Regions from separate parts of the Homo sapiens genome. Here region 1 is linked to region 2. A link means that fine-mapping ties the variant in region 2 to the expression of a gene that starts in the linked region. Tissue or cell type: whole blood. Region 2 holds a variant in brackets; the other region holds the start of a gene. All regions are shown on one strand. Distances are between the middles of the regions.

Region 1 (2,601 bases), 290 kb after region 2:
CGGGAGCAGGCCCAGCATCTGCCACTCCCAGGCCCCAGCCACGCCAGCCCCTGGGCCGCACCCAGTCAATGTTGTCCAGCCAGCTGTCTCGGATCTGAGCATCCCGGTTCAGGAAGTAGTTGCCATCGGCATCAAAGTGGCCTTCCTCCATCTCCTCCTGCAGGTTAAAGGGTGTGATCCGAACACCCCCCTCGCTGGGGAGTGTGGCTGCCTCCTGACCTGCACCAAAGACACAGGTGCCCTTTTCCAGGCATGGAAAAAAGAGACCGGAGCCTCCCTCGCTCCACACCACCAGAGGCCCCTACTTGTTTTTCCAGCAGAGTGTATTCTTGGGTACAGCTTACCTTCTACATCCTCTGAGGCCAAGATGTCATATTTGCTGGACCCCCCATCATCATCATCCTCCTCCTCATCGCTATCCAAAGAGTGTTTGCCTTTAAAGCGGCTCCCAGGACCCCCTGACCCAGCCACAGGGTCCACCAGCTGTGAGCAGGAGCCAGAAAGTTGAGAAATGCAGGTTACTGGCTACCTCCCCAAATACTTCCGGATCTGGACCCAAATATTCCCCAAATATTTCAGGATCTCGACTACTTCCCCAAATATTTCAGGAGCCACACTAAAGACGCTCCCAACCCATTCCTCAGAGAACCTGAAAAAACTAGGCTTTTCTCTGCCTGCCCGCCCCGCCCCTCTCCCGCCAGCTTTCTTCCTCTTCAGGCTTCTAGCTCCTCTTTCCCCCACACAAAGCAGTCTGGCCCCCTCACCTTCTTCTTGGGGACAATGATTTCATCCTCATCCTCCTCATCTCCCACGCCTTGGAAGGTCACTTTCCTCTTTGGCATGACGGGGCAAAGAGGTGTTTCTCAAGCTGAGGAAAGGATGCAGAGGAAGGGAACCGGGTGAGGAGGGGACTCGCCAACAGACGCAGCACAGCAAACATTTTTCCTGGTCTGTGACAGGTACAGTTTGGGAGCGGAGGGAGCACAAAAGCAGGGGCCGAAAGGAAGCTGGCAGCCAGGAGGCCTCCAGGACTTGGGTCTAGCATCCGCGAGTTAAACGGGGCGGGGACGGAGGAGCGGACCCTCTGGATCCCCCGACCCTGGCTGAAAGGAGACAGGCTTCACCACGTGACCGCCCCCAACTCCAGCCCCCGCAGTCTGCGCGCCACCGGCTCCACGGGCTGACCCCCGCTCTCTACCCTGGCTCTCTCGGAGCTCGCCGGGCCCCGGCAGACCCAGGACCTGGCGCTCTCGCCACCCCGTTCCTCCCTGCTCCGAACTCCCAATTCCGTGTGGTGAGCCCCAACTGTCCCGGGCTGTGTACAACTTAGAGGGCCACGGGGATTCGGGCGGTCCCACCCTCGCGCACTCACCTGGGAATCCGCGGAAGGCGAGGTGGAAAAAAGAAGAGATGCTTGCGCCAGGGCTACATCCGGGGCACCCGGCCGCCATCACCCGGAAGAGGACTGCGGAAGGCGCCCGGGAAGCCCGGAAGTGGCTTCACTCGGGTTAGGGAACTAACTGGAAGAGCGGGCGGAAGTATGCGATAAGCGAGCGAAGACGCCTCCACCCTCTCTCCCGCCAGAAGTGACGTCAGTCACGTGGGAGGACAATGGTGAGAAGAGGGAACCTAAGAATTCCTGGACTCTGACTGGGCGTGAGAAATGGCCGGAAGTAGCTTCGAGTCCGTCATTCAAGCAGTAGAGGCTCTGGAGAAAAACTGGAGCGCATCTGCTTAAAGGGCCGCCCAGGGTCAGGATGGAGGGGCAAAGTCCGAGCAGGGTCAGTGGGTTGCTGCTCCGTTTTCCTGTCCTGGGTTCAAGTCACCCTTCCCCCAGGGCTAAGGGCTCAGCGCCCCTACCGTCTCGTTAGAAATCCTGCCTTCCCATTCCTATGGTCCAGTGGTCAGCCCTCCTAGCCTGAGAGGTGCAGCCTTGCCTCTCCGAGGGGAAGCCTGACTCTCCCGATGGCCAGCCTGGGGCCCCTGGACGGCTCTCCGGGCACTTTCTGAACACACCTCCCTTTAGGACCCAGGGGAAATAATTTGTCCCACGCCCATACCCTGGGCGAGTTCCTGGTTTCTGAGGTGGGAGAGCCATCACTGGAGAGGTGGCATTGGCGCCAGTACTCAGGCCAGAAGCCCCTTGTGCCCTGCTCTCAGGTAGGCCTGGAAAAGGGCAACAGTGCCTCTCTGCAGCATGAAGCCCCCCTGAGCAAACAGGGCCTAGCAACTCCTGCCCAGGTAGCGGAATGTGGCCCAAGCAGAAGGGGGAATTGGGGAGGTAGCGGGGATCAGCCCCTGTGCTGGGACCCCTAGCTCTTGACACTCGGAGCCTGCATCCCCCTAAGCCAAGACTGTGCGCAGGCAGCACGTGCTGAAGCCAGACGAGGACAGCATGAGAGTTCCCCTACTCTTCCCCCAGGCAACTAGATGGGCCACTTCTCTCTCCCTAGGGGTTTCCTCCCATATTGGATCACGATGAAAACTGCACAGAAAGTCCGTGCTCAGTTTCTTCCATGGTTACAGAACACAGGCCCCAGACCAGGAAGGCATTCTGCTAAAGAAGGGGACCCGAAACCTCAGCTACCAGCGCCGATGGTT
Region 2 (2,752 bases):
CTGATCTCACCAGCCATCTGACACCACACCCTGAAACCTCAGCTGTTGGAAAGGTCATTCCCCTATTCCTGGCTTGGCCAAGTTTCTGATTGAACTGTACAACTGTGACTGTCACTACCTCTGCCTCTGGCCTCAAGGAGCCAATCTTCTGTCACACAGCCATCCTGGGCCACTTCAGCCATTTGGCCTGACTCCAGCCCATGCCTAAGGCAGTTGCGGGTCATCCCTGTCCCAGGGGAGGACAGCAGTGCACTGGATAGACCAGTTCTCCCTTCTTGTCTCTAAGGACACGCTGCTCCTATTCCCCAAAGAGACAGACATTGTTTCCTCCAGGAGCTGAGAAGCCCTCTTCTTTCTTCTTTGCCTAAAGAAGGCAAATGATATGCTTAGATTCATCCATTCATTCAGCATTCATTTATATCTCAGACACCTGCTGAGCATGAGTCCAGTGCTAGCTCAGTGGAGAATATGGGATGAGCTGCCCCTGCCCTGGCAGACCCAGAGAGAGGCTGATGCTCCTGGCACTGGGAGGCAGAGGGCTCAAGAGGGATTGCAGGCAGGACTGTACATCCCAGCTCCATTCCCATCACTTGCCTCTCTGTCTATGCCTCCATTTCCTTTTTTTTTTTTTTTTTTTTTTTTTTTTTGAGGCAGAGTCTTGTTCTGTTGCCCAGGCTGGAGTGCAGTGGGTCGATCTCGGCTTACTGCAACCTCTGCCTCCCAGGCTCAAGCGATTCTCCTGCTTCAGGCTTCTGAGTAGCTAGGATTACAGGTGCACCCCACCACGCCCAGCTAATTTTTGTGTTTTTAGTAGAGAAGAGGTTTCGCCATGTTGGCCCAGCTGGTCCTGAATTCCTGACCTTAAGTGATCCGCCCACCTTGGCCTCCCAAGTTGTTGGGATTACAGGCATGAGCCACCATGTCTAACCATCCATTTTCTCTTTTGTAAAGAAGCCCATTACTCAGGATTCTGGTAATTAAAAAATATAAGGCTGGGCGCGGTGGCTCACACCTGTAATCCCAGCACTTTGGGAGGCCGAGGTGGGCGGATCACCTGAGGTCAGGAGTTCGAGACCAGCCTGACTAACATGGTGAAACCCTGTCTCTACTAAAAATACAAAAATTAGCTGGGTGTAGTGGCGGGCGCCTGTAATCCCAGCTACTCAGGAGGCTGAGACAGGAGAATCACTTGAACCCGGGAGGCAGAGGTTGCCCCAAGCTGAGATCCCACCATTGCACTCCAGCCTGGGTGACAGAGCAAGACTCCGTTTGAA[AAAAC/A]AAACAAACAAATAGATCTAATTCTTTTGAAAACATTAAAATTGATTGGGCGCAGTGGCGCATGCCTGTAATCCCAGCACTTTGGGAGACCAAGGTGGGTTTAGCCCAGGAGTTTGAGACTAGCCTGGGCAACATGATGAAACCCTGTCTCTACAAAAAAATACAAAAAATGAATTAGCCAGGCGTGGTGGCACGTGCCTGTAATCCCAGCTACTTGGGAGGCTGAGGCAGGAGAATCGCTTGAACCCAGGAGGCGGAGGTTGCAGTGAGCCGAGACCGCGCCATGGCACTCCAGCCTGGCAACAGAGCGAGACTCCGTCTCAAAAAAAAAAAAAAAAAAGTACAAAAAATGAGCCGAGCACGGTGGTTCATGCCTGTAATCCCAGCACTTTGGGAGGCCAAGGCGGGCAGATACCTGAGGTCAGGAATTCAAGACCAGCCTGGTCAACATAGCGAAACCCTGTCTCTACTAAAAATACAAAATTAGCCAAGTGTGGTGGCACATGCCTGTAATCCCACCTACTTGGGAGGCTGAGGCAGGAGAACCGCTTGAATCCAGAGGTGGAAGTTGCAGTGAGTGGAGATCACGCCATTGTGCTCCAGCCTGGGCAACAGGAGTGAAACTCCATCTCGGAAAAAAAAAAAAAAAAATGGCCGGGCACAGTTGCTCACTCCTTTAATCTTAGCACTTTGGGAGGCTGAGGCAGGTGGATCATCTGAGGCCAGGAGTTCCGAGACCAGCCTGACCAACATGGTGAAACCCCCATCTCTACTACAAATACAAAAATTAGCTGGGTGTGGTGGCTCACGCCTGTAGTTCAGCTACTCAGAAGGCTGAGGCAGAACTACTTGAACCCAGGAGGTGGAGGTTGCAGTGAGCCAAGATCGCACCATTGCACTCCACCCTGGGCAACAGAGTGAGACCCTGTCTCAAAAAAAAAAAAAAAATTAAAAATAGGTAAATTGCCATTTTCAAAGATACCTGTAAAGATTTTTAAAATCATTCATGAATGCGGTCTGTTCGTTGCACAGAGTAGATGCTCAAAAATGGTGAATGAGACCCTCTATTTTGGTCTCATGCTGAAGAAGTCCATAAAGCCCACAAGTCATTTTCATGATGGACAGAAAAATGTGTGTGCTTTCTCTGTCTACTGCCTCAACTGCACAGACCCCGGGACTGTAGCAGAACCATCTTTTGAGCTTGACACCGGGAGGCCCAAATTCTAGCACGGGACCCAGGGCCAGTTGCTCTCTGGTCCTCAGTCTCCTCACCCATAAAATGGGAAGGAGAGAACCCTGAATCATTGCTTCTAGCTTCTGAACTCAGTTGTTCAGAACAAGGACTCACTGCTGATTTTTCAACAGCACAGGGAATTGCACTGTTCCTGGGAATGATGGACAGTACCCTCTGTTCCACTGGGCAAGTGAGATTTCCCAGGCCTCTCTGTTCCCTTCTCCCCTTAGAGAGCAACAG

Evidence for each region. PIP is the estimated chance that this variant, and not a neighbour inherited with it, causes the effect.
Region 1: CD2BP2 starts here. The variant in region 2 is fine-mapped to the expression of CD2BP2 in whole blood (TOPMed, PIP above 0.99).

Annotation. Positions count from the first base shown.
Region 1 is chr16:30,353,840-30,356,440 of GRCh38, forward strand. CD2BP2 (CD2 cytoplasmic tail binding protein 2) reads right to left here and starts at 1,469. Exons shown (of 7, transcript NM_006110.3): 1 at 1,373-1,469; 2 at 765-868; 3 at 345-483; 4 at 62-219. The coding sequence starts at 842. CD2BP2-DT (CD2BP2 divergent transcript) reads left to right here and starts at 1,595. Exons shown (of 2, transcript NR_184233.1): 1 at 1,595-1,781; 2 at 2,454-2,601. RefSeq lists enhancers at 483-1,434, 519-1,718, 1,409-1,703, 1,435-2,386, 1,441-1,500 and 1 more.
Region 2 is chr16:30,060,931-30,063,682 of GRCh38, forward strand. The region is part of intron 4 of LOC112694756 (uncharaterized LOC112694756); the gene reads left to right. Among named protein-coding and RNA genes, the nearest start is that of ALDOA, 3.5 kb to the right of the region's middle. The variant AAAAC/A (reference allele first, on the strand shown) is at 1,275.